3 separate regions of the Homo sapiens genome follow, and all the other regions are linked to region 2. Evidence: fine-mapped expression QTL. A gene starts in region 2. Each other region holds a variant in brackets. All regions are shown on one strand. Distances are from middle to middle.

Region 1 (9,991 bases), 81 kb after region 2:
ATTCTTCCACGATCTTTGTAGTCTAGCTTGAATTTCAAACTGTGTCCTTCCTTACTCCAGAGAGGGAGCAAGAAAAAAAACCTGGATGCTTTGAAGGGATCTGCCACTATTTAAAAGGGGATTAGGATTCTGTTTCAGCTGCATGTGGAACTAGGTAAGCTTCAGTGGCCTCAGAACTCCAGGCCCCTCACGGAGATCACCCTGAACAATGCCCAGTTTTTCATGCAGGTTTTGTCCTATGACCAGTTAACTACATGTTCAATAAATAAATGTCAAAGAAATAAATGCGTGAAAAGGCAACCAGTTCATCATCTTATGATTAGGTTTTCTTGATTAGGGATGTGTTTAGTACAGCTGAATGAACAAGTTCACCCAGCTGCTGGTGACAGAAACCCAACTCAAACTAGCTGATGAAAAACAGAACTATACAGATCAATGAATCTCTCCCCCTTTTTCAGCCTCATAGAACTGAAAAAAACAAACCTAAATACAGTCACCCAAGTGATGTCAGGAATCTCTCATGGTATTGGTCTCTGCTTTCCCTCGTATTGGCCATATTCTTTTTTTTTTCTTTTTTAAAAACTTATTTAATTAGTTTTCCTTAATAGTTGCAGCCAAGGCTGTCTCTTTTTTCTCTTCTTTTCTCTTCTTTTTTTTTGAATGAGACAGAGTCTCGCGCTGTCACTCAGGCTGGAGTGCAGTGGCACAATCACAGTTCACTGCAACCTCTGCCTCCTGCATTCAAGCGATTCTCGTGCCTCAGCCTCCCAAGTACTGCAGTTACTTTTGCACCAACCTAATAGCTCGGATTACAAGTATGCACCACCATGCCCAGCTAATTTTTGTATTTTTTAGTAGAGACCAGGTTTCACTATGTTGGCCAGGCTGGTCTCAAACTCCTGGCCTCTAGTGATCTGCCTGCCTCGGTCTCCCAAAGTGGGATTACAGGCATGAACCACCACGTCCAGCCAGTCATTTTCTTAAGTAGGTTCTTCCCAGCCTGCAAACCCAGTGAAAGGGCTTATTCTTTCACCATTACTGTGGGGAAAAAGTCCTGTAGAGGCTTTCCATAGGCCCTGTGTGACTCACGTGTCTATACCTGAATCAACTGTTACAACCAAGCAGATGCAGAGACTGCGTGCCCTCTCCTGGAGCTAGGAGCTAGGTGAGTCAATCCTGCACTTTCTCTACAAGGCTTGCAAAGGTGAGCAAGAAGATTCCCCAAAGTGAAATCAGGGTGCTGTTACCAAAAGAAGCTATGCTGGCAGGCAAAAAACAACAGCTGTTTCCCATAGGGCAAAACCTGAAACACCCAATTACTATCCCATTGTTTGCTTCAAAATTAAATTTTGTTTGACCCCAACTAGTTCTAGTCAAGTTTTTGCTCGATGGACCACGTGAAAAAAGGATAAACAATGTCTCTATATAATGCATGATCAGGTGGTTTATGAAGATGTCAAGAGCACTGAACAAAATCCAAATGCTCACATAAAATGGGATTAGGTTTCATAAGCCACCCAAGAAAATCAGTCTCATTATTTTATGTAATAATGTATTACTGTGCCCAGAGCTAACCTGTAGCTCTAGGGGAGTACAATGTGTTTGTATTATTCTTCATTGTACACAGTGCCTCAGACATAGTAGGTATTCAATAAATATTTGTTAAATCATGAATGACTGAATTGATTTCAGAGCTGAGATGGGATTATTTTCAACAGTCATCCCTGCTTAACACCTCTTTTATCTGACAGCAGACACCTGAAATGTCATCATTGGCTTCCTTCAATATGCAAATACTTCTGAGAGAGATCATTATTTGGAGCCTCCTTTGTCATTTACACCTTGGTGTGAGAAGTTTCTTGAGACCCTTCCCAGAGGGGGTTACAAAAGAGGAGCAAAGTGCACAAAATTCTAGGGTCAGGAGACACACTTTTCTGCCTTCCCAGTTTTGTTGGGGTAACCCAGGCTCCCCATGAGCCCTGTGCTGGATGTCCTGATCACAGTGGCTATGGATGCTGACAAGAGACCATTATTCCAGTTTTGCCCGCAAATCCCAGGAGAGCTGTGGGAATTCCAGCAAAGTCCCACTGTGGTCAAATGGGGCAGGAAACTGGTTCTTTGAGACTCCTCAGAGGAGGAAGAGATGATGAATGTATTACATGCCTCAGAGGGTAAAGGAAGCCAACAGTAAAACCACCCACATCCAAAACAGGAACTAAGAGATGTCTTACACATCCCCCTAATCCTGAAAAGCTGTGGGGCTTCTCCATGGGAGCTGAACACCCTCCGCCTGGAGCAGCCAGGAAGACACTATGAGGGAAGCAGGATGCCGAAGGAAGAGGTCAGAAAAGGCTAGGATTCTGGGCAGGCGCGGTGGCTCATGCCTGTAATCCTAGCACTTTGGGAGGCCAAAGCAGGTGGATAGCTTGAGGCTAGGAGTTCAAGACCAGCCAAGATGGTGAAGTCCCGTCTCTATTACAAATACAAAAATTAGCTGAGTCTGTTGGTGTGCCTGTAATCCCAGCTACTGGGGAGGCTGAGGCAGGAGAATCGCTTGAACCCGGGAGGTGGAGGCAGCAGTGAGCTGAGATCACGCCACTGTACTCCAGCCTGGGTGACAGAGTGAGACTCGGTCTCAATAAAAAAAAAAAAAAAAAAAAGGCTAGGATTCCCGCCCCCAAGTACTCCTGCAAGTAATATGACTCTAGTCCTTCATGATGTAGTTTTACATAGAAATTTAAGAAAGTGGCCAGGTGCAGTGGCTCACACCTGTAATCCCAGCACTTTGGGAGGCCAAGGTGGGTGGATCACCTGAGGTCAGGAGTTCGAGACCAGCCTGGCCAACACGGTGAAACCCCGTCTCTACTAAAAATACAAAAATTAGCTGAGCAGGGTGCCGCACACCTGTAATCCCAGCTACTCCGGGGGCTGAGGCAGGAGAATCGCTTGAACCTAGGAGGCGGAGGTTGCAGTGAGCCGAGATTGTGCCATTGCACTCCAGCCTGGGCGACAGAGTGAGACTGTGTCTCTAAAAAAAAAAAAAAAGAAAAGAAAGAAATTAGAGAAAGTTACTCTAACTTGGGTAAACCCCTAAGTCAGTTACCACACTTACCAGGTGCTTCTGTTTTAAAGAATGAGTGGACTGAATTGCACTTTAACCAGCATGCAGAAACAAAATTCTAGAATAATTATATGATTGGTACTCAAAGGATGGATATTGCCAAGACACAGATACTCATTCCCCCCCAAGAAAATAATAGCCTCTTCAAACAATAGGACCTCCAATACTAGTCACTGCTGTTTGACTATCTAAGGAAGCCACACATGCTAGACGGTGCCAGGCACATCCCCATCACAGTTGCACCTGGCCTCTCAGGAGTGATACAAACAGGCTTATTGACCACCTCTGGAAGCAGAAGGGATGGAGAAGCACAAAAGGGCCTGTTTTACATTGCTTCTAATTCTGTGTCTCCATTCTACCAAGAACAAAGAAATGCAGTTTCAAGACCCCTGTTTTCTTTGTGGCTTAAAAACGTTAATTATCCTAATTTTTTTCTCATTGTAAAAGCAATGCATCTTTATTTTAGAAAATTGGTGGAGGGGAAGAAAAAATTTTAAGAAGCAAACAAAAAAGTATTTTTAAGTCCACTATCTAGGGATAACTAATGTTACTATTTTATGGATATTCTTCTTTTTTTTTAGTGCATTATATACGTTTTGTTTTAATTCTTGGTTGGTGCAAAATTGGGATTTTACTATATCTAATTTTCTCTTTCTTTTTTGTAACATACTCTCATGAGCATGTCTTCATAAAGAATCACAAGTTTGATCATGAAAATGATACACTTTTGTGTTAACCAGAAACATCTGACCAGAACTAGGTCTGTATAAAACAGAGGGTAATAAGATGAACAGGTAATAAGACTCCTTGGTGAAAGTGAAGGTGTCCCAGCGGAGAGCAGTTCTTTCACAATCTACATCTGAGATTCATATTACCCCTCTGACCTCATGTACTCTCAGAACTTAAAAACAAGCAAAACCTTTTGAATGAAAAATGAAGAGGCTGAGGCAATTCCAAGAATTCATTAATAGTGATTCAATGAAGGGACTGCAAAATTCAGAGGGACACATGATCTAAACCTCATAAAAAGGATCACTGAGGGAAACCAAATAGAAATATGTTTAGTAAAATGTAGCTGAAGCTTTTGCTGGATATTGGACTAGAATCTGGAAAAAGACACAAATTTTCAGTCAGATCCAAGTTTCTGTTTAAATTGGAGGAAGGCTTGCTGTGCGTGACACAAGCCTACCAAGACAACTGCCATGGCCTTCTAGTCCATTAGTACATAACCCCACAAGCAGCAAACAAGGCTCAGCATATGAGCATGAGGCCAGTCTTGTGTGCCAAGTTAGCGAGAAGGTTCCTTGGAGTGGTGAACCCATGTAATTAATTGTATTCTTATTCCTAAGGACTGATCTTGCTAGACAGAGCCAAGTCTGCACCACCTAAGCCTAAATTGGGTAAGAATTCAGTAGCCAGCAAATCTTAGTTATTAAATAGTCACTGAATCCCCATTACAAGTGATTTAAATGCCCATTCACAGTTTCAATAATGTCATCCCAGAGTTATTCTAATCATCTCCTAATGGATTTACTAGTTTTCTAATTTCTTTTACTCCCTTTTATGCATCTGACCCCAAGTCAAAATTGTTATCATCAACAATACTTATTATCAGCATTCTCAAAAGCTTTGATGCCATCAAAACCCTTAAATGAAATTAAAAGATCAAATCATGGGCTTTAAAGTTATCT[G/A]AGAGCCACTGTTCCTCTTCTTCCACGTTTCCATCTTACTTGTTAACCAGCCAAGCCAAGCTCCTTAGCACAGAATTGCATCAAGAGTTATAAAAGTGGCCAAGGATCAGTGTTTGTCTCTGTGACCAGGCCAACTCTGGGAGTGTGTCCTAAGGAAATAATCCAAAGTACATGGAAAGGGGCAGGGTGCAATGGCTCACGCCTGTAATCCCAGCACTTTGGAGGCCGAAGTGGACAGATCACTTGAGCCCAGGAGTTGGGAGACCAGCCTGGGCAACATAGTGAAACTCCATCTCTACAAAAAAATACAAAAATATTAGCCAGGTGTGGGTGAACTAGCTGGGTGTAGGTGGCACATGCCTGTCCCAGCTACCTGGGAGGCTGAGGTAGGAGGATCACTTGAGCCCAGGAGGTTGAGGCTGCAGTGAGCCATGATGGCACCACTGCACTCCAGCCTGAGTGACAGAGTGAGACCCTGTCTCAAAAAAAAAAAAAAAAAAAAGTATATACACAAAATTTCAACAAAATGTTTGACACCACTTACTTATACAGTGGAAGAATAATTAAGAAAAGGATGTGCCATTATCTTGATGGGATACTATGAAGCCATTACAAACTACTTAACGGAGTGGAAAAGCAGACTTGGGAACTTATTTTTATTTTTTATCCCTCTCCCCAGGCTTGGGAAATTAAAACAACAACGAACAAAAACAAACAAAAAACCCTTGAGAGTGTATACTCAGCAAAGATAGAAGTGTCCACCTCTATCATGTTCCACACACATGGTGAGTGGCAGGAATATGTCAAAGCTCCCAGGAGTGGGATACAGCTCAGGCAAGGCAGAGAGAGCCCCAGCGAAGGCACGCATACTCTCAAAGGGAAGGAGGGCGACGCTTAGCTGCTCAGGACTTGCCCTAATGAAAACTCTCTCCCCAACCTTCCCCACCCTTGACCCATCCTCAAACTACCAAACAGTGTGTTAAAAGCAATATCTAGCCGGGCGCGGTGGCTCAACCCAACACTTTGGGAGGCCGAGAAAGGCGGATCACCTGAGATCGGGAGTTCGAGACCAGCCTGACCAACATGGAGAAACCCGTCTCTACTAAAAATACAAAATTAGCCAGGCGTGGTGGTGCATGCCTGTAATCCCAGCTACTCGGGAGGCTGAGGCAGAAGAATCACTTCAACCTGGGAGGCAGAGGTTGCGGTGAGCCGAGATCGCGCCATTGCACTCCAGCCTGGGCAACAAGAGCGACACTTCGTCTCAAAATAAAAAAGAAAAGAAAAGAAATTAAACAATATCCAGTTCTCACACCTTAGGTAAGTAGGAGGAAGAAAAGTGGTCTCAGACAAGGACAGGGTGTCAATAGTTTTACGCACTTCCAAACAAATAGAAGGCGTAGACAGGGCTGCCCACCTTAGACCTGGCCCCTGCACCAGCCAGCGACAGGGCTCTCTACATCGCCAGAGTGGGCTAAAGAAAGGTTTTTCAGTGCTCGCTGTTTGTTCTGAGGTGTCTTCACTGCATTTCCCGTTACACTCCCCACCGGCATGAACCCTGGTCCTGACCTCCTATCGCTAAGTGTCGTCCCAAAAGCTCACTGACATTAAAAGGAAGAGAGGAAGAGAGAGAGAAAAGAGCAGAGAAGCGGGTGCACGTGGGAAGCTCTCGGTTAGCAGGTGACAGGGCAAAAGCACCACCAGGACCTGGAAGAACGTCTGACCAGGCTACAGAGCAATGGATTTCTCTTACGCTGAACTGAAAGTAGCCTAAGAATGCAAGAGTGTTTTAGAAATAAGGGACGTCTGCAACTTGGCCACAGACTGCAAGGAGCCGGAGTGCAGAGTGGCGGGCTGGGGTCGTGAAGTGGGGGGAAGCGGTGAGAGCAGTCCGGAAAGCAGGCAAGACGAGCTAGACCCCAGGCCGGGAAACCACACCGGCGGGAGACCCCGCACTCGGACTCCCGCTCCTCTGAGCAGAAGAGCAGTAGGGCAGGCCCACATTTTCTGCTGGACGGGAGGGAGAAGACCCGGCCCACTGCCACTGCCCTCTCTTCTCCAAGCTACCGAGGTACCAATCTTCTCCCCAACTCTCCAGTCCCTTTCACACGCCCCAGCCCCCAGTTGTCCCACCCTCCAGGACCTCGGGAGTTCCTAGACCAGCGCCACCGCCAGCTCCTAGCCCAGTGGATTTATGTGAGCGACTTAACATCTCTGAGCCTCAGTTTCCTCATCTGCAAATGGAGATACAATGGCACCTAGGGGATTATTACGAATATCAGGTGAGTTCAATACAAGCAAAGGGCTTAAAAGAGTGCACTATCCCCAAATGAAGGTTCGGGGAGTTAACTTAATATTCACTCCTATGGGATTTCGTCTCCCACCACCCCTTTCTTAGCCAGGATTCGGGTATTCCCTTCCCTCGCTCGGACTCCCCGTCTTCATTCACCGACCCACTCGCGGAGCGAGCAGGCCCAGCTCTGCGTGCACTGACGGGCTGGGCGCGGGCGGGGCGCCGCCGGGACTTGGCACCGGGCTGCGTCCTGAGGCGCCCTGCCCCGCCCCGCACTTTCCTCAGCCCGGGCTCCCGGGCGCCCGCCAACACTGCGAGTGGAACAGCCGGGGCGAGCCCGTAAGCCGGAAGGCGGCTTCCGGGAGCGCGTGCGAACGTGGAGGCCACGCCGGCGATGGGGGGTTGGAACGGCCGGACCAGGCAAAAGCCGGTCCCTCCCTGCTCCTCCACGCTGTGGGGCAGTAAGCGCTCCGGACCCGAGGCTTAGGGAATCAGAGGACACGCAGTATAAGGGTCGCAGGTCGTGGTTGCTCGGAACACGAGGTGAGAGGCGGAACAAGGCTGAAGGGAAGCTCTGGGAGTGCCCTTGCCGAGAGCGGCTCGTTGGTCTAGGGGTATGATTCTCGCTTCGGGTGCGAGAGGTCCCGGGTTCAAATCCCGGACGAGCCCAGGCTTTTACCCACCCCACACCCGAAATTTAAAAACAGATTTTTTCCCCCTAATTCCCCACATATTCCATTCAGAAACTTAAATGAAAACATACTGGTCCCATGAGCTCGAATGTTGATCCCCTTTGTTTTTTGAAGCGAGGGACCATGTGAGCTCAATTAATACAACATATGGTTACTGTACGCCCAAAGGCAACGCATTCAAATTGCTTTGTACCATGTAAAACACACACTCTTGAAAAACAGACGCCTAGTGCGGAATCCTGTGCACGCCTTTAACTCCTCCAAACGAGCAGGGGGCGTCATGGATTAGCATGTCCCGGGGTTCGGGAATCAGCATTTCCGAGGAAAGGGGCGCTCAGGAGATATCCCCACCCCCGATGAGGGGCACTGTCGTGGATGAGTTTAAACCACGCCATAGGCAGCCAAGAACTGAGCTCCCGATGGCCCTGTACACGCGCTGCACCCAGGAATAGACAGCTAGGGACAATGTTTTCATAGTACAATACTACATTACTAGCAAACTTTTTACATTTTCAAAATGAGGCCTTTTAATGGTATTTCAATGTAGAGTGTGCTCTAAGTTTCCAAAAATCTCAATTTTGTGTTTTACTCTGACCAACCTGTATTTATTACGTTTAGTAATCTATCCCCAAAAAAACTCACCTTTAAGTGATTCTTACTCCAAAACAGGGCTCGTCCGGGATTTGAACCCGGGACCTCTCGCACCCTAAGCGAGAATCATACCCCTAGACCAACGAGCCGACACAAACTCCACCTTACTGTCATCAGAAAGGAACACATAGCTATTTAGTCCTGCGCCCTCAAGTGGTTGCTCGCATGTTAGGATTCGATCTTTGGGTTGTGTTTGCTTTCTATAGATACCGCGTTTTCAATTTTCTTTCTTTTCTGTTTTGCTCTTTGAAAATCAGTAACACAGAAGACAGCAAAATTGTCACTATCAGTATAATATCGACCTCTTATTTCGAAAATTGTAATTGTATTTCTATTCATGGCTAATAAATGGCTATTAGTGTGGGACAATGTCACTGTGGCAGATTCCAGACTCTCTCCGTTACTGAGTGAGTTCTGGATGTTTCATTCGTTCTTTTTCGCACTTTTCTATAATGTTAAAATCTCGGTTTCTTGCCGATATTTTTTATTGTAATATTCAAAGCCCTACCTATCTAGCCTTGTGAATTCCCATCTCTGTTTTTACTCGAAGTGTTCTCTTCAGCTGGAAAACCTGTTTGCTTTTGGACAAATCCCAAACTCTAACCTTCCCAGAAAAAGATCCTTTAACATATCAAAACCAATAGTATGTGGTAAATAACTGGGTTTCAGTCTTATCTCCTCCAACTGTAACTTCTTAGAGCGCAAGACACCTACACCAACACGAAATTCTACTGTAGAATTGGCAACCAATTGTGTGATTGCTGTTCGATTGTCCCAATATCTTTAATTAGATATAGTAAGCATGGCTTCTTAACTATATTTTAAATTCTTTTTCCTTTCTTTCTTTTTTTTTTTTTTTTTTTGAGACGTTGTCTCGCTTCGCTCTTTCGCCAGGCTGGAGAGAAGTGGTGTGATCTCGGCTCACTGCAACCTCCGCCCCCTCCGCCCTCCAGGTTCAAGCGATTCTCCGCCTCCCGAGTAGCTGGGATTACAGGCACCTGCCACCATGCCCAGCTAATTTTTGTATTTTTAGTAGAGGCGGGTTTCACCATGTTGGCCAGGCTGGTCTCCAACTCCTGACCTCAGTTGATCCACCCTCCTCGGCCTCCCAAAGTACAAGCGTGAGCCACTGCGCCCGGCCTAATTTCTTTTTTTTTTTTTTTTTTTTTTTTTTTTTTTTTTGAGACAGAGTCTAGCTCTGTCACCCAGGCTGGAGTGCAGTGGCGCGATCTCGGCTCACTGCAAGCTCCGCCTCCTGGGTTCATGCCATTCTCCTGCCTCAGCCACCCCAGTAGCTGGGACTACAGGCGCCCGCCACCACGCCTGGCTAATTTTTTTTGTATTTTAATAGAGTCGGGGTTTCACCGTGTTAGCTAAGATGGTCTCGATCTCCTGACCTCGTGATCCACCTGCCTCGGCCTGCCAAAGTGCTGGGATTACCACCGTGCCTGGCCCTAAATTCTTAAATACTTAGCATTGAGGCTTATCATAAGGAAGCTGGTGCTCAATGAATGATTCTGAATGATTACAATTTGTCTCAAAT
Region 2 (9,616 bases):
ATCCCTTCCCCATCAGTGAGGAATCTGGCTCCCGTTGTCCTCAAGGTATCTAAATATCTATTTGCTCAATTTCTCTGTGTAGCCAATTTCCTGATCTCTGCAGGGCTGCTACCCCACAGGCCTAGTCAAAAGCTCTCCTCATGAAGTCCCCAGCCTATGCTGACTGCCTTCTCCACCACTCCAATATCCTCCCGCTGCAGTCCCACTGCTGCTGTGCTGTCTTTCTCCTCAATTTCCTCATCTGCCTTTGGGAAACTTTCCATTGCAGGTTCTTAAAGACATAAAAACACTTCAGACTTTGTGCTTTCATTTCAATGTAATTCAAATTTATTCCTCAATGACAGTTACGGCAAAATGAATTGGGATTTGTGTGTGTGTGTGTGTGTGTTTCATTATATTTTGTTTTGCCAGATTCCCAGAATTTAGGAATGAATGGTATTATGTAAAATGTTATATATATTATGTTTATATTATTTTATATATTTATATTGTATATATTTATATATTATATTAATATAACTATATTATATAGATGATATTTCATGTAATACCATATGAGGTAATTTTTACCTATATATGCATTTACCTATACCATAGTAGGTAGTATTTGTAGTCGTAAAAGAATATTTGCTTCTTGCTCTTCATTTTTAAAATAGATGATCAGCAGTACAGTGTGTCCACTATAAACAGCTGATTGATTAGACCTCTTTGCAATTCTGCTTGAAAGCTAATTAAGTTACTACTTATTGTGGCCTTTCATGATCTTTTCTCCCACTGGGTCCTTATTTCCATGGGAGACCCATCTCTGAAAGACTCTGTCTCTGACTTAAAGGGAAAGATCCTAATTTGCTTCACTTGTTCATTCATTCACGCACATATTCGCCAAATTATTTTTATTTTACTTTATTTTTTTAGAGACAAGGTCTTGTTCTGTTGCCAAGGATAGAGTGCTCACTGCAGCCTTGAACTCCTGGGCTCAAACCATCCTCCACCTCCCAAAGCACTGGGATTACAGGTGTGAGCTACCACCTGGCCTCATTCACTAAATATTTATTGAGGGCCTTCTATATGCCTGGCTCCTCCCCATACCTCCCCATACGCCCCTCCCTTGGCTGAGCTGTATCTCTGGTGTTCTTGTTTTTTTATTTTTTGTTTTTTTTTTTTTTTTTAGATGGAGTCTCACTCTGTTGCCCAGGCTGGAGTGCAGCTGCACGATCTCGGCTCACTGCAACCTCTGCCTTGTGGGTTCAAGCAATTCACTTGCCTGAGCCTCCTAAGTAGCTGGGATTACAGGCACATGCCACCACGCCCAGCTAATTTTTGTATTTTTAGTAGAGACGGGGTTTTGCCATGTTGGCCAGGCTGGTCTCAAACTCCTGACCTCGTGATCCGCCTGCCTCGGCCTCCCAAAGTGCTGGGATTATAGGCGTGAGCTACTGCACCTGGCCTTTTTTTTTTTTTTTGTCGGAGTCTTGGCTCTGTCACCCAGGCTGGAGTGCAGTGGCAAGAATTTGGCTCACTGCAACCTCTGCCCCCCAGGTTCAAGCAATTCTTCTGCCTCAGCCTCCCGCGTAGCTGAGATTACAGGCACACGCCACCATGCCCAGCTAATTTTTGTATTTTTTTAGTAGAGATGGGGTTTCACTATGTTGGCCAGGCTGGTCCCTAACTCCTGACCTTGTGATCCACCTGCCTCACCTCCCAAAGTTCTGGGATTACAGGCATGAGCCCAGCCTGGTGTTTTTATTGTTAGTTACCTGATGACCTCTACTTATTGCGTGGCTGGTTCTGGCTATCAGGATATATGAAGGGGAAGGCCCAGGGTAGACTGAAGGAAGTGGTTCCGTGTTAGCCAGCCAGACCTCCAGAGAGAGAGGGGAACCAACTCCTCGGAAAGTCACTTTCCCTTCCCCTTGGGCTGTTGTTTCCTCCCAGCCCCCAGAGCAGCCAGTTACAATCCCAGATAACCCAGCAAACCTGGGTGTTTATCAGCAGAGTTACTGCTATTCTGGCTCCTGGAGATCTTCTGTAGGGACAGAAGAAGAAGATAAGGGGAGTACACACACCACACCTACTCATGGCTGCCTAAACACAGCTCGGGGCTACCTCTTGGTCCCTCCCTCCCCGTTTTCCACCCCCTCCCTCAGGAGAAGTCCCAGTCTGGGGCCCAAATAGCTCTGGAGCAGCATTAAACTCTGCACTGGGGACCCAGGAGCATGGTGGAGGCCAAGCTTGTTTGCTTTGTGGTCATCTGTTCTCAGCCAAGAGAGGCCTAAGCAGGGCGTGGGGAGCAGCTGCAAGTCACCTTGGGTGACTGATGTTATCTAGGCCTAACGGTTTCCTCTGGGTAAGCACTTCCGCCCTCCTGTTTGTGAAGCCAGAAACCTGTGCTGGGGCAGCCCCATTCTGAGCACAAAGGAGGACTAGGTAGAGGGAGAAAGGAAAAGGCCCTGTGGAGCAGAGTTAGAAGACCTGATAGTAGACTATGCAGTCATCACTACGTCCTGCACCTTTAAAAAGAAAGGAAAGAAGCACGAGCAAAAGTGTGCCTTGCAGGTTACCAGTAAATACCCTTCCTTACTGCCGACTCTGCTCTCGAGTCTTCACCTGAGCAGCCATGTGGCTGGACTGGGAGGGGCCTCACTATTAATTCCTGGGAGTGAGGGCTCTTTTCACTGGGTCCCCGAGTGCCTGTCTCTAAATAAAAGAAATATCAGGCTCTTATTCATCTGAAGCTTGTACATGGGGCTAAGCATGATAAAAACAGCCACTTTTTGCAGAGTGCCTACTACATTGTATAGGTGAGGAAAATGAGAATCAGAGCAGTTAAGTGACTTGTCTAAAAAATACAACTAGAAAGTAGCAGAGCTGGAATTCAGCCCTCAATCTGTCTGTTCCTAAAACCAGGCGTCTTCCTCTATGCTTAGCTAAGCTAAAGAACTAGAAGCCACTCTGGCATTAGGGCTGCCAGTGTTTTAGAAAGTTGGGCCTTAGAAAGTTCTAGGACAGGAAGGAGGCCATATTTCTAAGACTGGTACCCAAAGCAGCAATCTAAGTGCCTGAAAGTGCAAAGATGGTGCCGGGATAACCAGAATCAGGGTAGTCTTTGTAGCAGGAGCAGACTCTCAGCCTTTTTTCTCTACTGTTTCTCCACATGTCTCTTCACAGTGCTCACCATCACCTGTCCCATTGCCCACCTCTGATGGGGCTCCCCTCCCCTGGTTGAGCTGGGGTTGGGCGGGTGAGAATGCTGTGGGATAACCCAGAGGCGTCATATACCCAGCCAATACCCTGGCACTCACAGGTCTCTCAAGGCATTTTCCTGTTTCTCTCTGCCGAAGGGTCTGAAGGGGGCCGGGATCCGGGTAGCAGGGAGTGACCCTGGTGCAGATTCCAGTCCCCGAATCCCTCCCATGCGGTCTCTGCTGCCCAGCCGGGATGGCCCTAAAGGAAGGTTGCTATGCTGGGCCCTATGGGAATCAGATGTTGAGCATCTTGCCCTTTGCTATATTTAACAGGAATGGAGACGAGGCCCTTTAGCAAGCAGCTTGTGGGAGCCAAAATTCCCACAAAACCGAATGCATCAGTCAAAGCAAGGTTTGAAGAAAAGATTTACCACTTCAGGGAGCTTGGAAAACTTTGCGTGGATTCCTGATTTTCCTCCTCCTCCTCCTCCTTCTACTCGTATACAGAAGATAGATGGATAGATGGATAGATAGTGGTTTCCTGGAAGGTGGAGAGGAAAAGAGGTGAGAAGGGAAAGGTGGTCCCGTCGGCGCCACGCTGAGCTCTGAAGCCTCGGTCAGAAGGGCTCCTCTTTTGGTAGAACACAAACGCCTTCCACCAGGGAGGGTCCTCGAACTCCACCCAAGAACTGCAGGGAAACCAGGTATGACAGTAATGCAATTTTAAAAAGAGGGAGAGGAAGAAGGAAAGCAGGAAGGATGGACACAAAAGAAGGAAATCGAAAAGAGAGGAAACAAAAAGAATTAAAGGACCACTCTAATTCTTGAAGGGACAGGAAAAAGAAAGAAGGCGCATTAAGGGAGGGAGACGTTGAGAAGGACTGAGACCGTGGCAAAGCCCAGGGTCCTGAGAAACTTCGCGAGACAGAGGGGCCCGGTGGCTGCCCATCCCCATGTTTGGGCACATGGAGTCGTGGCTCCCGCTCTTGAGTCCTGCCCTGGGAGGGACAGTATCTGTTTAGATTTGCGTCTAAATTTAAACCCTGATCGTCGGCCTCCCTCCCCGCTCCCCACCCTCCCCTCCCCTCCCCTTCCTCCCTCCCTCCCTCCTCCTCCTTCCTCGTTCTCTCGCGCAGGGCCCCCGCGGCCGGGGCAGTCCCGCAGCCGAGCGCAGCCGGGCGCGCGCCACCGCCCACTCGCCCTGTGCCCGCCGCAGCCCGAAACTGGCCACGGCCGGGAGCGGAGGGGACAGCGGGGATCGTGAGCTCCGGCCCGGGCGAGCGGGTGCGTCTGCCGCAGAGTCGGCACCTGAAGGACATGGAGGTAAAGGACCCCGGAGGGAGACGCGGGGCTGAGCGGTGAGCGGTGTATCGGGCGCCCCTTCCCCGGGCGGCTGCCCCTGCCCTGAGCATGGAGCACGCGGCTCATCGCTGCTGCCAACTAGAAGGGCAAATGCCTGCTGTTCCGACGCCTCCTTGACCAACTCCGAAGGATCGTCCCTGGTCCCACCTAGGACACCCGGGTTGGGAGGCTGGGGTTGGTAAGGAAAGATCTCAGAGGGAGAGAAAAGGGCTTTCCTAGAGGCCCGGGTATTTTGGCTAGGAACTTAAATGCTAAAAAAAAAAAAAAAAAAAAAAAAAAAAAAAAGTTAGGTGCAGCCAAGGTTTGTAAATGGGTAAACGTGTCAGCAAAAACTGCAAGAAGGCAGAAGCCCTTCAATCTGAAGAGATGGGTATTGAAAGAGAAACAGAACTGGCAACACGAGGCCAGCACGTCTTCGTGGGTCTGTGGGCTTCCCTTTTCGCTTTCGGAGTGGCATTTTAGAGAGTCCAGTTGTCTTCTTGCTTCTGAAGTCCTTCCTGTGTCTGTCGCATCTTCTTCCATAACTTTCTGAAAGCTCCCCTTACTGGTCAGTCGAATGACATTATTTCTGATAAAACTTAAGACTCCCTTGGACACCCTTGCCTCTGAAGCTGTGTGTATGGAGGTATGCTGGCCACATCTGCAGGCTTTGCCAGAGGGAGGCCCCGCACTTCTCTGCCTGCTGAGAGGAGGTCCGGGGACTTTCCTTGTTCTGTTCCAACCTCAGCAGAGGAGTGGTTGGGTGTATTCCCCACATCCCTCTCTTCTGCACATCTTGAGGCTTCCCTGTGTTTCCTCCTTGAAAATGAGACCTGATATGTAGCCCTAAGTCAATCTTAGTAGGACCTGGGGCTTTTGAGAAGATGCAAATGTTATATAGTTTTAAAGGTGATTCCCACTCATATTCAAAAGGAAACATGTGTTGCTCACTAGACTGTGGTCAGTGCAATCAGGATTCACAGTTAACTCCGCTATCTCTTCCCCGCTCCAGGCTCTGTGCCTGGGCCCTGGTGGTCTTTTTATTTTTTTCTTTTGAGACAGGGTCTCATTCTGTTACCCAGGCTGGAGTGCAGTGGCACAATCTCAGCTCACTGCAACCTCTGCCTCCCAGGCTCAAAGGATCCTCCCACCTCAGCCTCCCAAGTGGCTGGGACTACCAGTGTGTACCACCATGCCTGGCTAGTTTTAAAATTTTTTGTAGAGACAAGTTCTCACTATATTACCCATGCTGGTCTTGAACTCCTGGGCTCAAGTGATCCTCTAAGCCTTGGCCTCCCAAAGTGCTGGATTTGCAGGCATGAGCCACACCACTCCTGGCCCTGGTTGTGTTTTCTAAGCTAGACTCTGTGCTTGCCGGCAAAGCTTCATGACTTCTCTAAAGGGGCAATAAGTTTGTCCTTTAGAGAAGTCAGGGAGCTATATTCAGGCATCCAGCCCAGCCAGTTGTCTTCAAGGAACAGGGAATCACCTTCAAGGAGACTTTATAGACTGCAAGAACCACTGGAGTCTAATATGGACCCTCCACAGAAACATTTGCAAGGCCAGGAAGCTCTGGCAGATTAGGGCTGGCGGTGAGGCACGCACACAGCGAAGCTCAGCAGGTGGTGTGCACACATCCACCCAAAGATCACACAAACACAAAACAACAGGGTTCTCTCTGAGCTGGCCACTGCTTCAGGGCAGAGGAGGGAAATGGCCCAGGCAACACCCAGCTTCTTGGGTTGGGTGAAGTCTCCTTAAGAAATTGTTTTAGAAGTGGCTTCCCTCTTCTGGAAGTGTACAAACTGCCTTAGGCCCCAGGCTGCAGATTCACTATGATGTATGGCCTGTCTAACCTCTTGAAGAAAAGGATTGGAGATAAGAGAAAAGCAACTCTTAGACTTCAAGCAGGTTGCTGCTGGAGGGCCAAATGCAAGTGTCAACTTTGTTCTAGGAAAACAAGGAGGGTCTCCTTCCACAGAGGCAGTTTCTCCCCCCTCAGATGAGGAAGGAATAGTGTATGGCAGAGGCCCTGAAACTATCAGCTGAGCAACTTCCTGTGTGGCTTGGGGGGTGGAGGGGATTGCAGTAAAAGAGAAGGCCCTCCCTTATTGAGATGTGTAGTAACTTATGCAGGATTCCACCAAGATACCAAAATCACTCCCGTGCTAGGGTTTGGGAGGGACGCAGGGAGGGAATAGCTCAGCCAGCCAGAAGCCTGACAAATCACCCTGCGTCTCACATCCAGTAGGTCACTAAGCCTAGTCCATCAATTTGCTGGTTGGACAGTGGCTGCTTTTGAAGTTTCTTTGTCCAAATGCCTGGAAAACAAAAAACAACAAAAATGAAACAAACAAACAAAAAAACAACATGCAACTGCTAGTGAAGAAAGTAAAGAGGAAATCTAGGGGCCAGGGAAGTGACCATTCTTAGCCAGGAAGTAAACTTTTCATGGTGAAGCATGATATGCAGGAGTTGGATTTGGGGGTTTCTGAAAATCTCAGAGTAAAACCCTCTTTTGAGAGGTGAAACTCAGTTTTGGGACATGAAAGGGCTACTGTATCTGGAAAGAAATTAAGTTATATTACTTCTCAGTACTAGGAATCCAAACCAGACCAAAGAGGGTTACTCAATATTCATTCTCTAAAGCTCACGTATTATTGGAAGTCTTTGAGAGATCTTTTTTTAAAGTCACTGTTACCATTATCAACAACATCAATCTTCATCCCTCATAAAGCCCTGTGGAATAAACAAAGTATAGATGCCATCTGATCCCTGCCTTTTAAAAGCTCACAACCCAATAAAGGGACTATATCCTGTCACATATATAATCTTCAAATGCATAAATGCCAGTTGAATACTGCTGCAGATCATGAGTTCTGCAGGAGTTCAGACTAGATTAGGTTCAGAAGAAGCCTTGGAAGAAAGATGTGGGTAAGGTGGAGAAGGTATAAGGGATGGGCACAGGGAGAACATGCCAGCTTTGTCCAGCTGGCTGGGAAGGAAGGTAGGAAAGCAGTAACAGAAAAAAATGAAAGTAATAAGATAAATCCAAGGTCACTGAGTATAGTAGATGCCCAGCTAAGTGGGTGAGTGGGAGCTGAAATCCAAGTCACTTGGAGGAAAAGGTTACTTTTTGTTCATACAAAATCTCCTTGCCTAGTTGAGCCTCAAACGGGTGGCTTTTTCTAATTCATGCAGAGGCCATCTGCAACTCTTGAAGGCCAGAGTTGTATGGCCCTGGATTCTGCTCCATGGACAGTAGGAAACTCTGAGAGGTGTTGAGGCAGCTGGCAGCAGTGATGTAGCCGGGATGATACAGCAAAAATGCCACTTCATGGAGTGAGCAAGGGAACCAGGTGAGAAAGCATCTTTTCCAGTACAGGTATATTCTGACTTCAGGATACAATAAGAATGGAGAAGATGGAAAAGAGTAAAGACCATGCGCTGGAAGGGAAGTCAGAAATCACCAAGCTGCCCAGAAGAGTGAAGTTCTCTATGGTGCCAGGGAAAATGGCAGTACCAACTTTTACAGCTCCATACAAAGCCTTTTGCAGGCAGATTTTCTCATTGGTCTTTGAGTCTCCAGAATGAGCACGGTGCCTGGCATATAGTCATATAATTTCTCAATAAAAGTTTGCTTGATAAATGATTAGCATAAATAGGGAACTCCTTCCCCTCTCGGTCTGTAGCTCAAACGTCTCCACCTCTGGAAGGCTTCTGTGAAGCCCCCAGACTCTACAGCACTCTCAGAGCACTTTGTTCAAGCCACTATTAGAACACTAGGCAGAACTGGAACTGTCAGCCTCCCTAACTGTCACCCCGGAAGGCTCCTTGAGGGCAGGGGCCATGTCTTATATATTTAGAGCCTAATGGGCACCAAGAAAGGCTTGTTGCATGAGCAAATATTGAAGAGGGAAGGAAGATCAGGGTTTTTTTTTTTAACAAGCAGTGTTTAGATATGTTGGTTTTGATTGTTCTAAGCAGAATGTCCACCACTCCCTAAGAAATACAAACCTGTTATGATACAAATGTGATTCTCCTCTAGAAGAGATAATAGGTAATGCTATTGTGGATAGGAACCCAGAGGACAGAGGTGTGTAAAGAAGGAGCTGGAGGCGTATGATGTCACATTTAAGTTAATACTGTTAGTCACTTAAATATAAATTGTGTGCACTGCCAATAGCCTGAGGGCACTTGAAAAAAAGTATAATTTTCGCTGACTAAATCCTTTGTTTGTTCAACTAAATTGTAGGCACATCATGGCACTGAAAAAAAGTCATAAATTTCTAACTTAGGTGGAGACAATAAATGAATCCTTTTCTCTGGGGTAACTGCAAATCATTCCCAGATATTATTTGTCATTCATGGACCTACTCAGTATTTATTGGGCCCTTATTACATACCAGATCTTGTATTTTAAATGTTACTTAAAAATTATGGAGCTCTCATGTCTTTACATTCTCACAGACTGTCAGTATTACTATGATGAGAGTGTGTGTGTGTGTGTGTGTGTGTGTGTGTACATATTGGTGTATATAATGTGTTTGTTTTGTGACCTACTTTTTCATCCATATCTTTTTACTTCAGTAAACATTTTCTACCACATTTTTTAAAATTATGGGACTAGGAGATAGAAGAGAAACATGTAACGAATCCAAATCTTAAAAAGATTATTTTGATATTTCACCGTGAAACACTAGGAGAAACACCCACAGCCTCGCTGTTTTTTGACCCACCCACCCTCTCACTGAGCCATATGTTGGCTGCTGGTTGGAGCTGATGGGCCGTAATTAGGAATTGCACAGCCTCTGAAGCTAGAGTTTGGCTCGGTGGACTTGTGGCATGCCCAAATACCCCACATTCCTCTCTGGCTCCCGCGTGTTCTGTGGGACCCTCACCCTCACACTGGCCCCCACTCAGCAGACATCTTCCATTTGTTGGACTGCGACGACAGGGGGAATTTGGGGAGTGAGACTCTAAGGGCCCAGCCCAGGCCCTATCACAGGAGGGGGTGAATGTGCATTCCTGGAAAGGAGTCGGGTTTCAGAGCCTGATCCGCAGCGTGGCTCCTCACAGCACTGCGAGCC
Region 3 (9,991 bases), 24 kb before region 2:
TGCCTGGCTGGGCTGGGAGTTGAGGGGTTAACAGACTGATCCTAGAAAACAAATAGGCTTTTGGCTTGGTTTACCTGTGCTTGCTAGGCATATTGTTACCCAGCAGTGACCCCGTCTGAGTGTGGAAAGAGCTGAACCACAAGAGCATCCCAGCTTGCCCCAGGGCAGCCACCCAGGGTTGACCTCTAATCTGAAGACATCTTTGGGGAGAGCTCTCACACACTTCCCCAAATATACTTCTATGTGCTTCTGTGTGTGTCACAAGAGGCCTTGGGTCACCTCCTTCCTTTGCGCAATGAGATCAAAAGAGCAGTTTCTGCTTCTGCTGTTGCTTCTTTCCTGTTACCACTTTCTTGGACTTTTCGGGGACTGTTGAATTCTTAGGACACAGCCCTGCTCTGGCCCTGGTGGGCTTCCTCTATTAGAAGGCTCCCCAGGGCTTCCTGACTGGAGCAGATGGCCCTCCCTTTCCCGGGTGAAACAGGCTGACCTGGGCAGGCCGGCCCCTCTGCCTTTGATCTGCAGGTGGGAGGCAATAAAAGGCACTTTCCACGTGCCTGCTATAACCATATTTTCCAAATTCAAAAGCAGGACTCAGGAGTCTCTCTGAGCCTACTCTGGTTTGAGAGGCTGCCTGTAAAAATAAATAAATTAAATAACTAAGAGCAGGACTTTACCCACCCCATACATATGTCCTTCTAAGGACTTTGAGACAAAAGATGGGAAATTGGACCATGCCAGGAAACCCAGGATGGCTGGCTGCCATACACAGGCCTCATGGAAAATTCTCTCCTCTGGGGGATGTCTGCCGGAAGTGCCATCTGCTTTTGCCACAGATTCATGGCTGTGAGTGTGGCTCAGGCAATAACCACAGTAGACCCTTGGTTAACTCCTGCTGTGGTTCCGCCAGGAAGCCTGGCATGAACAGTTGTGTCCAGGAAATCTTTTCCCTGATTTCACTAGCTTGTTTTATCTGCCTGACAACCTTACTCCCAGGAAGGCTTTGCAAGGCACTTTCACCTTCAGCTCTTGGAATGAATAAATACAGCTATGATTTTTTAAAAAATATCAGTCCAACAATTTCGGTATGTCCAATAAATATCATAATGACCTGTTTCACGTATCAGGAACTGTGCTGTGCACTGTCAGAGATAAAATGGTGAAAAATGCCATTCTCTTTAATCCTTTTGAGGCCCTGCTGGCATGAAATCGTGTTAGTGCTCAAGGGAAGGTACAATGGCTGAACACATAGTTTCCACCTTTTCACACTCAACTACAGTACAGATTAATCACGGTGTCATAGGAGGGAGCCAGACTTGGCATCAGATCCTGGATTCAAATCTTGCCACCTTCACTTGATGACTGTCTGGTACTGAACAAGGTACTCTTTCAACCTCTTACTCCTCATCTACCAAGAAGGAGGTCATAATTCCTCCTGGCAGTGAGGTTGGGTGAGGAATAAATGCTGGCACATTGTTTATGAGCCTAAGGCATAATAGATGCTGAGAAAAGGTTTATTTCCTTCTTTCCTTAAGGAGCTTAGAGGCTAATAGATAACAACTGGTCCTGCTGTAACTAACACACACTGCTGACTGTCATACAATCTCAACTAGGGGTGTGAAAGCATGCCGAGGTGGCCTTTTGAGGTTTGTTGCATATGCTTGGGGAAAAACGCTCAGATTAGCATTGCCGGGGGCCGTTTCCTGGGCTCCTTCCTGCAGGGCCTGTTTCGGGGCCCTCCACCCAAATCCACTCCGGGAGGAGTAAGTTTCGGGGCCTTTATTACCCACTTGTGATTAGGGATCAGAAGTGGCCAGTCGGGGTGGGTTGGCAGTGACTTGCACCCAAGGGAAGGATGGGAGCCCACAAGAGTGGCAGGGCTCTGGGGAGAGAGGCAGGCTAACCAGTAGAAGTGAATAGGATGTGCTAAAGTATTCCCTTGAGAGTGGAAATACCATACAGAAGACTTGGATATGTGGTTTTCACCCTAAACCAAGCTGAGGAACCAGCACCAAATGCTTAACAAACACACAAACAAAAACAAAAACCCCCCTCTGGGTGGCCCAATGCTGTAGCACTTCACTTTTCATGGGACCTTGCAGCTTACATGCAGCATTCAAAGACATGAGTTTATTTGGGCCTTCCAATATCCGAGCTTGGTAGGTAGGCTAATTTCATCACTTCATTGTACAGAGGAAAAATCTGAGATTCAGAGAAGTTACACAACTTGCCAAGATCACATCTAAGTAGCAGAGTTGTGGCTCTAAGCCACATAATCCAGACTTTTTTTTTTTTTTTTTTTTTTTTGAGATGAAGTCTCGCTCTGTCGCCCAGGCTTTAGTGCAGTGGTACAATCTCAGCTCACTGCAAGCTCCGCCTCCCGGGTTCAAGCAATTCTCCCATCTCAGCCTCCCAAGTAGCTGGGATTACAGGCACCTGCCATCATGCCCGGCTAATTTTTGTAGTTTTAGTAGAGACAAGGTTTCACCATGTTGGCCAGGCTGGTCTTGAACTCCTGACCTCAGGTGATCCGCCTGCCTTGGCCTCCCAAAGTGCTGGGATTACAGGTATGAGCCACCACGCCTGGCCCAGACTTCTTAAAGAAAACATAAATGGCCTATCAATTCATGTAAGAGTGTTCCAAAATTATTATAGTAGTGGCTCCTCTATGTTCTCCCCAATTTTTTTCTCTTTTCTATAGCAACAGAAGTTTTTTTACTGTGTACATGGAAACTCAGATAAAGACTCTATTTCCCAACTTCCCTTGCAGCTACAATTGTTCATGTCATTGTTTGGGACAACATGAGATATAAGTAGAGGTGATATGTGCAATCCTCAAGGCCAGACTCTTAAAAAGAAGTTGCATGTTCTCCTCCATCTTGATGGTAGGGATGCAAGATGTGATGATAGGAGCTGAGCAAGACATTTTGTGGTGTACCAGCTCTGAACCACTCACCTGGAATTTTATGTGAGAGAGATAAACTTAAGTTTAAGCCATTATATTTTGGGTTTATTTGTTACAGAAGCCTAACATTTACTCTAACTAACATGGGTATATGGATCTGATAATAGTCCTTAGGAAAGAAGACTGTGGAACAATCATGAAAAAAGAATAGGAGTTAAAGCCTGCAGGACATGTTACCAGTATGTTCTGCCCTTGCAGAGTCTCCTGAATTCTGTTCCCTGTGTTGGGCCTCATCCTTAGGCACACAGAGGGTGTCCCCTCAAATTCTTATTTCATCAAAATTGAGCCAACAATTGCCCTTTCTCTCAAATTGATTTCAGGTGGCATGACTCAAAGAGCACCAGACTTAAGGTCAGAAGATCTGAAGTCTAATTCCGGCTCGGTTTTTTCTGCCGTTCACAGTTATTTAATCTCTCTGAGCTTAGCTTTCCTCATCTATAAACTGAAGATGATGGTATCTGCCTCCAGGATTATTGTGACAATTGGCTTAGCTCAATGCTTGGCACAAAACAGACACTTCATACTCTCCCTCCTTCCCAGCCCCTCTGCCTTGCCGCATGCAGAACAGCCATGTGTCACATGAGTACAGTAAAGACCCCCATCGTCTCTTGTCTCACCGGCCCACCAAGGAAAAACACACTGGGAAATGTATCCAAGGACTTATCGGCCCTAAGGCCACAGGGCTTAGGCTTTGGTGAGCAGAGAGTGGAGGCCTAGAGTAATGTTGGCAGAATCCAAGAGTCTTTTTAAAAGGAGGGGCGGATCAGTGAAACCCGGAGCAAAAGAGCCTTGCAGCATTTGGGAAACACAACAGTGGGCTCCTTTATGTGGATGAAGTGCTGAGATCATGATCAGAGCCTCTGGGCTCTTGGCATGACCTTTCGGGTCAGAGGTACCTGACAAGACTGGCTGGTTGGTTCAAGTTCAGGGTGTCACAGTTCTGGTGGCTCCAGTCTCCACTGAGAAACCTGGGAAAATCTTTCTGCTGGACAGCCCAGGGGCTGACATCAACCTGAACTGCTACCAAGTATCAGGAGAAGCTTTCTTAACAAGTCAGGAACAATGAGACATTGTGCAGGCAGGTAGATCACAGTCTGTGTCCAAATCCCACAAGAAGAATTCTTAAGTATCTGCTTTCAGCCCCTGGAGACAGGAGTTTTTCATCTGGGGTCCTAAACTCCTCAACCACAACCTCTGGCCACGTTCTTGGCCCTCACCGGTCCCCATGTATCTCCTCTCTGGTAGTGGGACCCCAAATACATATATGGCTCCACTACCAGGGGGCCTGCAGGATTCCTGGAGGCTGAACTCCAATTCCCACTTTTCCATCCTTATCAGAAGCCTGACTGTCCTGTCCCTCTCATCCTAATCTAATCCAGTCAAGTTCAGGGTTTGCCAGCACACCAGGGCCTTCTCCTCTCCAACCAGACAGTGATTGAGGCTCCGGGATGGTAGAGTATGAGTCAGATCAGACCAGCGCCAGCACAGCTCTCCTTCCTCTATTGGTATTTCCCAGAGTGTACGTGCAAGTTTTAGATAACATAGGAATAAAAATTTATTGTAGCCCTGTGTTTATTGTAATAGGTATAAAAAATCAGTAGCTCATTGGAGTGGTGATTTCATGGATATCATTACTTAGTGTAATGCAAAATTTAAAAAGTAAATTAATTTAATATAGATCTCAAACTTACTGAAAAAAGTCATGGTATGGATGGCCCATGACACCAAAAAAAAAATGGTGCTGGGAAAATGCTCTTCACTATGCTGATTCTCTGGTCAAAAATGAGAAATATGATTTTTCAATTGACCCAAATACTCCTTCCAGCTGATAAATACAGTCTCTTTTGAGGAAGATTATTTACCTGTGAAGTCACATTAAGATAGCAATAGATTAAACAGATCAGATTTGCATTTTAGAGAGGTGATTCTGAAATAGAGTTGCCAGATAAAATACAGAATACCCAATTCAATTTGAACTTCAGATTGATTATTGCATGGTGATATGGTTTGAATCTGTCCCCACTCAAATCTCATGTTGAATTGTAATCCCCAGTGTTGAAAGTGGGGCCTGGCCGGGCGCGGTGGCTCA[C/T]GCCTGTAATCCCAGCACTTTGGAAGGCTGAGGCAAGGTCAGGAGATCGAGACCATCCTGGCCAACACGGTGAAACCCTGTCTCTACTAAAGATACAAAAAAAAAAAAAAAAAAAAATTAGCCAGGCATGGTGGCAGGTGCCTGTAGTCCCAGCTACTTGGGAGGCTGAGGCAGGAGAATGGTGTGAACCCAGGAGGTGGAGCTTGCAGTGAGCCGAGATCGACACTGCACTCCAGCCTGGGTGACAGAGCAAGACTCCGTCTCAAAAAAAAAAAAAGAAAGAAAGAAAGTGGGGCCTGATAGGAGGTGATTGGATCATGGGGTCAGGGTTTTCATGAATGGTTTAGCGCCATCCACTTGGTGCTGTCCTCATGCTAGTGATTGAGTTCTCACAAGATCTTGTTGCTTACATGTGTTTGGCACCAGCCACTGCCCTTGGTCCTGTTCCTGCCATGTAAGATGTCTGCTCTGGCTTTGCCTTTTGCCATGAGTAAAAGCTCCCTGAGGCGTCCCCAGAAGCAGATGCTGTTATGCTTCCTGGACAGCCTGTGGAACTGTGAGCAAATTAAACCTCTTTTCCTTATAAATGACCCAGTCTCAGGTATTTATTTACAGCAATACCAGAATGAACTAATACAGAAAATTGGTACTGAGAAGTAGGGCATTGCTATAAGAATACCTGAAAATGGAAGTGACTTTGGAATTGGGTAGCAGGCAGAGGTTGGAGGAGTATGGAGGGCTCAGAAGATTGGAAGATGGGGGAAAATTTGGAACTTCCTAGAGACTGCTTGAATTGTGACCAAAACGCTGATGGTGATATGAACAATGAAGGCCAGGCTGAGGAGGTCTCAGATGGAGATGGGGAACTTACTGGGAACTGGAGCAAAGGTCACTTTTGTCATGCATTAGCAAAGAACTCATAGGCATTATGCCCCTGCCCTAAGTATCTGTGGAACTTTGAACTTGAGAATGATGATTTTAGGGTACCTGGTGAAAGAAATTTCTAAGCAGTAAAGCATTCAAGATGTGACCTGGCTGCTTCTAGTAACCTATGCTCATATGATGAGCAAAGAAATGATCTGAAACTGTAACTTATATTTAAAAGGGAAGCAGAGCATAAAAGCTTGGAAAATTTGAAGGCTGGCCATGTGGGAGAAAAGAAAAGCCCATTTTCAGGGGAGCAACTCAAGCCAACTACAGAAATTTGCATAACTAAAAGGAAAGCAAGTGCTGATAGCCAAGATAATGGGGAAAAGGCTGAACCTTTGTGGCACTCCTCTCATCAGAGGCCTGGAGGCCTAGGAGGGAAGAGTAGTTTCATGGGCCAGGCCTAGGGCCCCCCTGCCCTTTGCAGCCTGGGGACACTCCTCCCTGCATCCTAAGCCACTCTGGCTCCAGTTGTGGCCCAAAGAGGCCCAGGTACAACTCAGGACACTGCTTCAGAGGGTACAAACCATGAACCTTGGCAGCTTACACATTGTGTTAAGCCGGCTAATGTGCAGAGTGCAAGAGTTGAAGCTTGGGAGCCTCCACCTAAATTTCAGAGAATGAAAAGCCTGGACGTCCAAGCAGAAGTGTGCTACAGAAGTGTGGGGCCCTCATGAAGAACCTTTACTAGGGAAGTCCAAAGAGGAAATGTGGGGTTGGAACTTCCATACAGAGTCCCCCCTGGAGCACTGCCTAAAGGAGCTATGAGAAGGGGGTTACCATCTTCCAGATCCCAAAATTGTAGATCCACCAACAGCTTGCACCCTGCACCTGGAAAAGCTGCAGACACTCAATGCCAGCTCTTGAGGGGGCTGAATCCTGGAAAGCCACTGGGTGGAGCTGCTCAAGGCTTTGGGAGCCTACCCCTCATACTAGTGTGCCCTGGATGTGAGACATGGAAGCAAAGGAGATTGTTTTGGAGCTGTAAGATTTAGACTGTCCTGTTGGGTTTCAGACTTGCATGGGGCCTGTAGTCCCTTCCTTTTGGCTGATTTCTCCCTTTTGGAAAGGGGGTTTTTACCCAATCCCTATGCCTCCATTGTATCTTGGGAGTAACTAACTTGATTTTGATTTTACAGGCTCTGGACTTTTGAGTTAATGCCAAAATGAGTTAAGATTTGGGGGATTATTGGGATGTCACGATTGTACTTTTGCAACATGAGAAGGACATGAAATTTGGAGGGGCCAAGGGTGGAATGATATGGTTTGGATCCCCACCCAAATCTTATGTTAAATTGTAATTCCCAGTGTTGGAGGTGGGGCCTGATGGGAGGTGATTGGATCATGAGGGCAGAGTTCTCACGAATGATTTAGCACTATCCCCTCAGTGCTATTGTCATGAGAGTGATGGAGTTCTCACAAAATCTGGTTGTTTAAAAGTCCATGGCACCTCCTCCTGTCTGTCAGTCCTGTTCCTGCCATGTAAGACACCTGCTCCTGTTTTGCTTTCCACCATAAGTAAAAGCTCCCCAAGGACTCCCCAGAAGCAGATGTCATTATGCTTCCTATACAGCCTGCAGAACTGTGAGCCAATTAAACCTCTTTTCCTTATAAATTACTCAGTCTCAGTTATTTCTTTATAGCAATGTGAGAACAGACTAATACACATGGGAGATATTTATACTAAAAATTACTTATCAATAGTTTGATGTTCAAATTTAACCGGATGGCTTGTATTTTTATTTGATAAACCTGACAGCCTTACTCTGAAAGTTTAAGTTAATCTCGGCTCCTCCTACTTACTCCCACATCCTAATATGTACTTAATCCCTGGAAAATCAAACTTGTAGTGTCTTTCAACCCTCTTTTTTCCTCTCCAGCTTAGGTCTTCAACTCTCCTGACTTGTTTTCCTGTCTGCAAAATTGCCTCTGATTCCTTCTGCTGTCGGAATCATCTTCCTAAAATGTAAATCTGACCCCTGCAAAACAGCTCTTAAGATGTTGCCCTTTCTCCTACTGACAAAGTCCAAATTCCTTTGCATGTCCAATTCCAGCCCCTGTTCCTCTCTGTCATCCCCGCCACAATGGACTTTGCTTTTCCCTCTGTACAGTGCACCCCTTTGTGTATCCTCCAGTTTGCTCCTGATAGCTTCACAGCCTTGAAAAATCTGACTTGGGTCTTCGTTATTAACCCCAGTGCTCAGTCCTCAGTGACACCTCCTCAGCACCTTAGCTCTCACTGCTGTCGCATCTCTGCCCCAGGCTAAGAGCACTGGCTACATCTAAGACTCTATCTCAGGTTTGTAGTGGAGTACTTGAGGTGAGGTGCCAGAGTGCGGTATTGACCATAGCAGGAGGGCCTGAGGTCCTTTGAGGCACCAGGAGGTAAGAGGAAAAGAAAAGGAACTAGTACAAAGATGAAAAGAAAAAACTGGAAAATGTTGGTTCCTCCTACTTCTTTTCTATTTAAGTCTCTGTTGATTGTGCGACTGTGTGCACATGATCTGATTTAATCCTCACGATATCCCTGCAATTTCATCACCCTGAATTTTTATAGGAAGAACTGATGACAAGAGAAGTTGGCATGATTTGCCCCCAAACACATTCAAGAAATAGCTATATTTAGAACCCAAGTCTTTTAGTAGGAAGACCAGCCTAGTACCATTTACTGAACTCCACCACCCTACCCCACCTCATCCTACCCCATATCCCCTTCTGCCTCAGACCTTGTACCCCAGGAAGAGGTCCTGGGAAACAAACCATTTCTTCTTTGCAGGCTGCATGCTCATTATTCTGTACATGACAACTTCCTTTGGCTTAATGTGTTGAACTGGTGATTATTAGGATTTTCTCATGAATGTTTTCAGAAAAAAAAACAAAATATAAAAAAAGACTGGATTCTTTCATTGCTACTGGGGCAAAGAGCTGACTAAACAGGGCTGATGCATTTTGCAAAAGGGAAAAGGCAGGATAGAAGTCTGGAATAGAACTGGAACCCTTTCCCTGACCCCTGGATTATAGAACATTCCAGACAACATTTTCCTAGCATAAGACTTTAGCTTTCTGAGTCAGGAACTCAATTTTCTTTAGACCCTAAAAATATTGTCTTAAATTTTTCTACCATTAGATTTCTTTTGGAAATTCAAAACATTTCCAGGTTTTTTTTCTTTTCCTTTTTTATTGTTTATTCATTATGATTACTATTTTTGAGTTATAATACAAATAGCATAGAGTGCACAAGGGCACTGATCTTAAATGTCCTGCTTAATGAGTTCTTGCATTTGTATACACCAGCACCTGGACCAAGATGTAAAACATTTCCATCACCTCAGAAGGGTCCCTCATGCACCTTCCCAGTCAATATCCCAGCTCAGGGGTAGCTATTATTCTAACATCTATCACCCTGAATTAGTTGTGCCTATTCTTGAGCGTCATAGCACATACTCTTCTGTGTCTGTCTTCTGCTCAGCATTATGTTTTTGAAATTCACCTCTGTCACGTGTGTCAGTATTTTGTTTCTTTTTATTGCCGAGTGTGGTAATATTTTATTGCATTAATATTCCACAATTTGTTGATCTGTTCTTGGACATTTGGATTGTTCGTAGTTTTGTACTATCATGGATAAAACTGATTTGTACCAATATGATAGGCTTGTATGTGTCTTTTGATAGGTATATCTACCTATTTCTCTTGGGAGCATGCCTAAGTTTGAAATTCCTGGTTCATGGAGCAGAGTCACAAATTTTTCAGGAAATGAATAAACTAAACTTTTCCAACAGCCATATGAAGAATGCTGCCCTTAAGCAAACCTTTAAAGTAGATAAAGATGTATTTACTGATCTCAAAGTTTTCAGTGACCTTTCTCTCTCCATCACCAAGAGCCTATCCTGGGTATCCGATCACCCTGAGTCTACTCACTGTTTTTGTTCTTGTTGTTGTTATTATTTTTGTTGTTATTTTGGAAATTTATGAGGGTATACAAGTCCAGAGAGAATAGTGCTATGAATTCC

What was found.
Region 1: its variant is fine-mapped to the expression of RCSD1 in whole blood (INTERVAL, PIP 0.91).
Region 3: its variant is fine-mapped to the expression of RCSD1 in lymphoblastoid cells (GEUVADIS, PIP 0.95).

What each region holds. Positions count from the first base shown.
Region 1 is chr1:167,707,023-167,717,013 of GRCh38, forward strand. RCSD1 (RCSD domain containing 1) reads left to right here. Exons shown (of 7, transcript NM_052862.4): 7 at 1-1,674. It overlaps TRP-CGG1-1 (tRNA-Pro (anticodon CGG) 1-1), which reads left to right and starts at 7,703; the gene lies at 7,703-7,774. TRP-AGG2-1 (tRNA-Pro (anticodon AGG) 2-1) reads right to left here and starts at 8,537; the gene lies at 8,466-8,537. RefSeq lists enhancers at 126-325, 6,221-7,059, 6,554-6,713 and silencers at 7,184-7,423, 7,724-7,823. The variant G/A (reference allele first, on the strand shown) is at 4,813.
Region 2 is chr1:167,625,922-167,635,537 of GRCh38, forward strand. RCSD1 (RCSD domain containing 1) reads left to right here and starts at 4,311. Exons shown (of 7, transcript NM_052862.4): 1 at 4,311-4,508. The coding sequence starts at 4,503. RefSeq lists enhancers at 2,140-2,199, 2,280-2,449, 2,460-2,509, 5,028-5,097, 8,985-9,508 and 1 more and silencers at 4,168-4,247, 4,268-4,487.
Region 3 is chr1:167,601,362-167,611,352 of GRCh38, forward strand. No RefSeq gene overlaps it. Among named protein-coding and RNA genes, the nearest start is that of RCSD1, 24 kb to the right of the region's middle. RefSeq lists an enhancer at 256-405. The variant C/T (reference allele first, on the strand shown) is at 5,055.